Regions from separate parts of the Homo sapiens genome. Here all the other regions are linked to region 1. The links come from fine-mapping of genetic effects on gene expression. A gene starts in region 1. Each other region holds a variant in brackets. All regions are shown on one strand. Distances are between the middles of the regions.

Region 1 (2,836 bases):
TCCTGAGCTCAGGGGATCTGCCCACCTTGGCCTCCAAAAGTGCTGGGATTACTACAGGCATGAGTCACTGTGCCCCGCCCACGGGAAATTTCTTTTTTTTTTTTTTTTTTTTTTTTGAGACAGAGTCTTGCTCTGTTGCCCAGGCTGGAGTGCAGTGGTGCCATCTCGGCTCACTGCAACCTCCACCTCCTGGGTTCAAGGAATTCTCCTGCCTAAGCCTCCCGTGTAGCTGGGACTACAGGTGCCTGCCACCAACCATGCCCTGCTAATTTTTTTGTGTTTTTTGTAGAGACGGGTGTCTCACCATGTTGGCCAGGCTAGTCTTGAACTCCTGACCTCAAGTGATCCACCTGCCTCGGCCTCCCAAAGTCCTGGGATTACAGAAGCCACCGCGCCTGGCCCCAAGGGGAATCTTTTAAAAAAGAGAAGTTCCCATAAACTGCTTTGAAACCATAAAGACCAAAGGTTAGAAGGGTTTGCCGCAGGCGCTCCGTTGCTAATGTTTTTGTGAGGGCTTCTTCAGGGCCTCTTGTTAGAGTGTGACATAAACGACTTCATTTGGGTACCAGCAAGTGTCACAGGGGGCAGAGACCAGCAGAAACCTAAAGATGACCCCTAGAAGAGCAGGAGGCCAGGGGAACAGAGTTAGACGAGCCACGTGCTAAGCAGGACGTCGCTGCCGGGGGAGCTCTCCAGACACGCAGAAATGCCACAGTCAGGACCGTGGGACGCAGCGGATTCGCCCAAGGGCAGGAGCAGCCTGGCCAGGAGAGAATGAAGGAGGGGCCGGGCGTGAGGTTCGGCTGGGGAGAACCCAGGCAGGGAGGGCCTCGGGCGGCCACGGACGCCGCTTTGCCATTTTGGGCGTTTCTGGGGAGGACAACGCGTGCAGGAAGCGCAGTCATCTCAAGCTGACCTCCAAGGTTACCGAGTTCGAGGGCTGGGAGCCGGGTCTGAAAGCCCCGACCCGCCTATGGCGCGGGGACTGTGGGTCCAGCCGGCCGATTGGCCGCCTCGCTCGGCGCCGGTCCAGGCGCAGCGCTCGGGCCCCGGGGACCGTGAGATGCGGCGCAGCCAGCTTAGCTCGGGGTAGCAGCCACCCCAGCCCGGGTGCCGCCCGGCCTGGTCCGCGACTTCGGGAGGGTCCGGTCCTTCCCCCGGCCCCCACGCCTGGGTGAGGCCCTGGGCTTCTTGCCGGTGACCACGCGGCCAGGGTGGGCACCAGCCCAGGACGGCGCCCAAGGGCAGCCCAGCTCCATCCCCGCGCCGCGGGTTCCGGAACCGAGGCGCGGGACGCTGGGACTCTCTGCCAACATGGCGGCCCCGCCCGGGCGCCTCCCCGGGTCCCTAGTGTCTGCGTCTCCCGTGAGGGCGTGGGCAAAGTCGGTGCAGCCAGACGACAGGAGGCGAGAGAAGCCCAGCTCCAGGCCCATGAGGCGAACCACGTGGGAGCCCCAGACAGCGACCACGCCCCAGGCGAACCAAGGCCCGCCCCGTTGCTACAGCTACGCTCGTAGCACACCTGGGCAGGCGCTGCCGGACGCATGCGCAATGAACCTGAGGGCAGGGCGGAGTCGCAGCAGTTGTCTGACGCAGTCGCCGTAGGACGCAGCCCCGTACGCTGGAGCGCAGCGGAGACAGGCGCGGGCGCACTGGCCGCATAGAGACGCAGCGCACGCGCAGTCGCGTATCCGTGTGATGGGCGGGCTGTTGACGGCGCTGCGATGGCTGCCTGCGAGGGCAGGAGAAGCGGAGCTCTCGGTTCCTCTCAGTCGGACTTCCTGACGCCGCCAGTGGGCGGGGCCCCTTGGGCCGTCGCCACCACTGTAGTCATGTACCCACCGCCGCCGCCGCCGCCTCATCGGGACTTCATCTCGGTGACGCTGAGCTTTGGCGAGAACTATGACAACAGCAAGAGTTGGCGGCGGCGCTCGTGCTGGAGGGTGAGGGTCGCGCCGGGCTGACTGGGGCCCGGGGCTGCCGTGCCCGCCGCCCTCCCAGACTGCGGCTCCGAGCGGGACCTGGGCGGGCGGACTCGACTCCCCAGGCGCCGCCCTCTCCACCCCTTCCCCGCAAAAAGGGGCAAATGTGCGTTCCTGGTTGGGGCAGCCGTGGGCGGCTCGCCTGCAGCGGTCTCAGCGGCCCAAATTCTGCGGGGCGGTGGTGGGAAGAGGGCTCAGAGCCCCAGCAGGTTTTCTGGGCTTCGTTCGCTTTTCTGCAAGGTCCTGGCCCAGGCGCCTGCCCCTCTTGGAGCGGAAACCGGAGGTTCCCCGTGGTGTATGCTCCCCTCGGTACAGTGAGAAATGAGCCCCTCTTGATTGGCTCCTGGTCTGTTCGTGGTGGTCTCAGGCCGAAGGGCATTGATAACCACATGCGGACTGTGCATCGCCTGGGCGGTGCCTGGGCTACATCTGTGGGAGTCGCAGGAGTCTTTCTCCACTGTTGATGAAATGTGACAGAAATGTTTCTGCTTTTTTCTTATCCTCGTCTCATCTGCACCACTGTATTAACGACATCTGTAGTATTGTCCCAGCAATGTTCCTACTCCCTGCTGAGAGGGAACTTCTCCCCATTCAAAATAAATAGAGCTGGCCGGGCACGGTGGCTCATCCCGCGTTCCACCCACTACACTCCAGCCTAGGTGTAACAGAATGAGACCCTGTTTCCAAAAAAAAAAAGAAATAGAGCTGAACACTGGATCTTCCAGAAGAATTCCTTATTGTCCTCACAGTTTGTGACAGTTGAGACGTTCCGTGTGATATATTCAGTAAGAAATGTCATTCTCTGTACCTCCCTTAGAAATGGAAGCAACTGTCGAGATTGCAGCGGAATATGA
Region 2 (2,500 bases), 170 kb before region 1:
AGAGGTTGCGGTGAGCTGAAATCATGCCATTGTACTCCAGCCTGGGCAACAAGAGAGAAACTCCGTCTCAAAAAAAAGTTTTGTAATTTTGTAAAATGGTTACATGGCACCAAAGCGAAAACTACAAAAAAGGTGCATTCTGAGACGTCAGAGGGAAATGTGTCAGGCTCCCCGTCCGCAGCGCCGTGCGGTCGTTCAGAAATTTGCATTCCCATAAGCATTGTGGGAGCACCGTCTCCCGAGACTTGCCAGCACAGTGTGGTGTGAAGGTTGGACGTGCCACTGTGATGTGTGAGAAACACATCAGTCCTCTGTATCGGGGGTCCACGCCGTGGATCCAGCCAACCGTAGGTTGGAAATGTTCAGGTAAAAATGCACTGAACACGCGCGGACATTTTTTATTGACACAGCGTTCACGTTGTATTGGTCATGAGTCACCGAGAGCTGATTTCAGGTATGAGGGAGGGTGTGCTTAGGCTCTGTGCAAACACTCTGCCATCTTCCATCAGGGACTCGAGCATCCTTGGGTTTCAGGGACCCTGAGACCAACCTCCTATGGGTGGCAAGGGACAGCAGAGCCTCGAGGCGGTTCTGACGGGCGTTTCCCAAGCTGTGGTGTGACCGAGCCCATCTGTGCTTCTCTTGCTGTTCATGACTCCTGCCCACTGAATAGTGTTTTTGGTTTTTGTTTGTTTTGGGGGAAATTGTTCAAGGTTCTTATGTGACTGTTTCTGGAAACTGATTCACAGTTACGGCCGTTTCCCTCCTTCCGGGTATGAAATCTTGTGCTGCGTCTGGCATGTGTGGGTTTGGTTTTCTCACACTCAGAGCCGCGACACACCTGCCATGTCACCTGGGAAATGGAGGAGGAACTTGGGGTTCATGTTTTTCCTCGGGCTGTTCCTGCATCCATAGACCCATGTCAGATACCACAGTGTTAGTCTCTGTTTCTTCCCTGGTTCGATGTTCCTGTTGTATGTGAGTGTCTGTGTGCACTTGGCCCCTTTCTGGATTTTACGTTTTGCTTCATGTCGTGTCTGTGTCATCCTGTACCACCACGCACCGGGTGAGCAGTGGGCGTTTGATTCTGGGTTTTGAACCCAGGCCCTGAGGCCT[CAGCACCGCAT/C]GTCCTGTGGACTGTGATAGAGGGACAGGCGTGCCATGTGACACACAAGCTGGGGTCTCCACAGGTGTCCCGAAATGCTTGCCCATCTCAGTTACTGGCACAGTGTGCATGTTTGCACGTGTGTGTGCACAGGTGTGTGAGCGTGTCGCTTTGGAAATGGGCTGTTGGGTTTCATTCAGTGTGAGAGTGAAGAGGCCAACGGGGCAGGTCATGTAACCTCTGTGTCAGTCAGTGTGGTCCATGTGGAAGTGCTGAAATGCATCAGAACAGAGAAAGATGGCTCTGTGACGTCACTCCCTTGTAGTTTCAGGACCACGTCAAGACTTGTGGCAAGTGTCGAGTCCCTTGCAGATTCCACGCCATCGGCTGCCTCGAGACGGTGAGTCGGGGGGTCTGAGGTTGGGGGCCACCCCTCATCCTGGGTGTGGTCTTCACTGCCTCCAGCCCAGTGCTTCCTGGTTTCCTTCCAGCTGCTCCTCAGCCACCTCTGCAGCACTGCCTCCTCCTGCCCCGGCTGTCCGAGTGTTCCCAGCTTGGTCTCTGGGCTGGCAGCCCTGTCCACTCCCTCCTGGTGGCATTGTAGTGCCTGGCTTTGACTGCCACCTGTCTCTGAGGATGCCCAGTGTGTGTGCCCACCTGTCGCCTTGAGCCTCCCTGGGTGTTGAGTGCACGTCTCAGATGTACCCGGCCGGCTCGCCACGACCACTCCTTGGCCGCTGTCTCCCTGCCCCCATCTCACACAGAAAAGGGCAGCACTCTAACCCAGCGGCTGTCGCTGAGCCCTCCGCCACCAGCAGGCACTCGGGCCCCTCCTCTCGCCTCATGCTTCACGTTCGGGCTGACAGAGGTCTCGTCTACCCTCAAATGGTCCCCCCAGCCGTCACTGCCCTGTCCACATCATCCTCATCTCTCACTGGGACCCAGGCTCAGGCGCTTATGGGACCCCCGTTCTTTTCCGTTCTGGCCTGTTCACAGATGGAAATCGATCACAGCTCTTCCTCATGGCTTCTCATTCAGAGTGGCCTGCTCCTGTGATCTTTCCCTCCCCTCAGCTATCTCCTCTGCCCTGCTCGCTGGCCTGAGCTTCCTTGGGCATGCCCACTTGTGCCCACCCCAGGCACTTGGGCACTGGCACAATGGCCAGGCGCCTGGGTCTCTCCAGGTGGACCCCCCTGCTCCACCCCTGCAGACTCTGCCCCTCTGTCGCCAGCACCTCGTGTCTTTGTCTCTTGTCCGTCTTGCCCTGTACAACAGGAGCCCCTTGAGGTCAGGACCCTCGAGGAGTACTGGGCCCAGAGGTGGTCCCCAGCTGAGGTGTGTGCCTGATGGATGGAGAGGGGCAGGCCGTGGGTGCAGACCCTCCCCTGGCCAGCT
Region 3 (2,668 bases), 24 kb after region 1:
CTGGACTCTAGCTGTCCCCTGCTGGTGGGCAGGGAGAGGCCACGGGGAAGCTCCGTGTCCCTGGCCCCACGGGGCAGATGCTTGGCGGGAGGCATCCTTGCGCCTGCGTTTCACACAGGGCCTGTTTCCCTGCAGGGCTGGCACTGAGGCGCACAGCTGAGGGATACACGGGCCCTCAGGTCAGGCAGCTCCCAGCAGCCTGGCATGGCTATGGCCCCGAGCCCTGGGCTGTGGTGGCAGAGTTGTCCTCATCATCACTCTACTGCTGTCCCTATCCCAGGGCTGACCCTGGGCCTTGGCTGGGTTCCCCCCGACCCTGAACCAGGTGACCTCTTAGGACCACGCCCCCTCGCTCTCCCCTGTGAAAAATCCATCACCTTCACTTCCGGAAGACTCCCCTTCCCTGGGAAGCCAGAGCCGGTGGCGGCACAGGGCAGGGCTACCCGGACCCAGCCCAGGATTGCCAGCTCCGCCCCTCGGGACGTCCGGGCCCCGAGTGTGGGCCTCGGCTCTGCCTGTCCCCACAACCCCCAACATCCCACAGCAGCCACCTGTGTCCCTCTGGGGACAGTGGGCACCCTGGGGCTTCGTCTCCCACTTCATGCTGGGCCCTGATCCTGCACTCCACCCTCTGTGCCTGGAAAGGTGAGAACATCGGCTGTCATGTGACCCTGGCGCCTGCCCCTTGTCACGGTGGGCCCAGCACGGCCCTAGCCTGCCCCTTGTCAGTACCACCCTAGCCCGCCCCTTGTCACGGTGGGCCCAGTGCTGCCCTCCTGGACCAGGTGCCCCATGGCCGGCTGAACGGGCAGGACTAGGGCAGCAGGTGGGGCCTCAACAGCCGGAAAAGGTGCACCTTCTCCATCTCACCCAGACCTCCGAGACTAACGTGCTGGGGGCGTGGTCCCAGAGGGTGGAGGGACAGCAACTGCATGCCCCTTGGGGGCCAAAAGCACTGTCCAGTGGCCTCCCCTGGAGGGGTCGCTGTGTACAGAGGATGTCAGGGAAGGAGTCACCTTGGAGGTGTGGCTGCAGCCTCTGTCTGCTGCGGCTCAGCAGAGCGGGGCTTCCTTGCGGGGCACTGCCCCCCGCTGCCCTAAGGAGCAGACCTGAGCGTTGTGGAGCCTCTACCTTGTGGAGCACATGGCATACCCGGCCTGTGTGGGGTGCGCCGCGTCCCCAGCCGTGTCTCCGAGGGTCCCGCTCCCACAGCCTG[C/T]GTGTGGGCCCCACAGACAGGAAGGACGGGACATACATGGCCAGGCCTCCAGGCGTTTATTCAGCCCCTTCCCTCTGCCGCCAGCTGCTTGAGTGAAGCCCCCACTCCATGAGGAGCCTTGAGACCCCTCCAGTCCTGTGCTCAGAGGCTGAGTCTGGGCCCCCCACGCAGAGCTGGCTGCTGCTCACGCCTGGCTGCCTTTACCCACTCGCCGATGATGGTGGCCTCCAGCTTCCGCGCCTCAACCACGGAAGCAGGATCTTCTGGGTGGGAGGCTCTGGGGAGCGGGCACAGAGGGGGCCCGTCAGCCCCAGCCCTCGGTGAGCCTGTCCCGCCCGACCCGCGACCACCGCCAGGCCACCTCCCTCCGCACCTGAGGTCGAGGTGGTGCGCTCCCCCCTGGATGGTGACGGCGATGACTGAGGCACTCAGGTTCCTCCGAATCTGTGGTCAGTGGAAAGAACTCCATCAGGTGAGGAACGAGGCAACTGCCCAGCCTCCGTGGGCCCATTGGAGAGGAGACGTGAGAGGGCGAGCCGAGACTCAGTGCCCATCAAGCAACCAGAGAGAACCAGCCAGAGACGGAGGTGGGAAGTGACGAGATGATGGGGGCAAAACCGGGTGAGACAGGAGCAGGGAAGGGGCAGGTGTGAGGCCTGTGATCCCAGCACTCTGGGAGTAAGACAGGAGCAGGGTAGGGGCAGGTGAGGGGCCTGTGATCCCAGCACTCTGAGGGTGAGACGGGAGCAGGGTAGGGGCAGGCGAGGGGCCTGTGATCCCAGCACTCTGGGGGTGAGACGGGAGCAGGGTAGGGGCAGGCGAGGGGCCTGTGATCCCAGCACTCTGGGGGTGAGACGGGAGCAGGGTAGGGGCAGGCGAGGGGCCTGTGATCCCAGCACTCTGGGAGGCCATGCGGGGAAGATCGTTTGAGCCCAAGAGTTCGAGACCAGCCTGGGCGATATGGTGAGACTGTGTCTCTACAAAAAAATATTTTTTTAAATTAGCTGGGCATGTTGGTGAGCGCCTGTAGTCCCAGTTACTGGGAGGCTTGAGCCTCAGAGGTCAAGGCTGCAGTGAACCCTGATCTCGCCACTGTATTCCAGCCTGGGCGCCAGAGAAAGACCCTGTCTCAAAAAAAAAACAAACAAACTAACGGGGTCATAGGGCCCAGGCCAGGACTCACCCCGCCCCCTGCCCAGGGGTCCAGGTTCCCGTTGGAGAAGATGATGTTGCTGGCGGCTCTGAGATCTGCAAGGGGCAGAGAAAGTTGTGATGTGGGCCCCTCACGGGGGCTGTGAGCCATGGGCAGGGGGTGCAGAGCTCGGGGCAGAAAGCAGGACGCTGGCCCACCCCCCCTCAGCCTTACCACCCCCCCAGAAGCTGGTCAGCAGCCAGTCGGGCCGGGGCCACACGCCCCAGGTGTCCAGGCAGTACCGCTGGCGGAGCTCGTCA

The links. PIP is the estimated chance that this variant, and not a neighbour inherited with it, causes the effect.
Region 2: its variant is the best candidate, but not a certain one, in a credible set for the expression of MAN1B1 in skeletal muscle (FUSION, PIP 0.58).
Region 3: its variant is the best candidate, but not a certain one, in a credible set for the expression of MAN1B1 in vagina (GTEx, PIP 0.81).

What each region holds. Positions count from the first base shown.
Region 1 is chr9:137,085,276-137,088,111 of GRCh38, forward strand. It overlaps MAN1B1 (mannosidase alpha class 1B member 1), which reads left to right and starts at 1,710. Exons shown (of 13, transcript NM_016219.5): 1 at 1,710-1,943; 2 at 2,800-2,836. The coding sequence starts at 1,725. It overlaps MAN1B1-DT (MAN1B1 divergent transcript), which reads right to left and starts at 1,542. Exons shown (of 1, transcript NR_027447.1): 1 at 1-1,542. RefSeq lists silencers at 1,064-1,293, 1,844-2,073 and an enhancer at 1,634-1,863.
Region 2 is chr9:136,915,111-136,917,610 of GRCh38, forward strand. TRAF2 (TNF receptor associated factor 2) reads left to right here. Exons shown (of 11, transcript NM_021138.4): 7 at 1,431-1,505. Among named protein-coding and RNA genes, the nearest start is that of FBXW5, 28 kb to the right of the region's middle. The variant CAGCACCGCAT/C (reference allele first, on the strand shown) is at 1,117.
Region 3 is chr9:137,109,291-137,111,958 of GRCh38, forward strand. It overlaps DPP7 (dipeptidyl peptidase 7), which reads right to left. Exons shown (of 13, transcript NM_013379.3): 10 at 2,583-2,668; 11 at 2,400-2,464; 12 at 1,590-1,660; 13 at 1,256-1,493. The coding sequence ends at 1,358. Among named protein-coding and RNA genes, the nearest start is that of DPP7, 4.1 kb to the right of the region's middle. The variant C/T (reference allele first, on the strand shown) is at 1,217.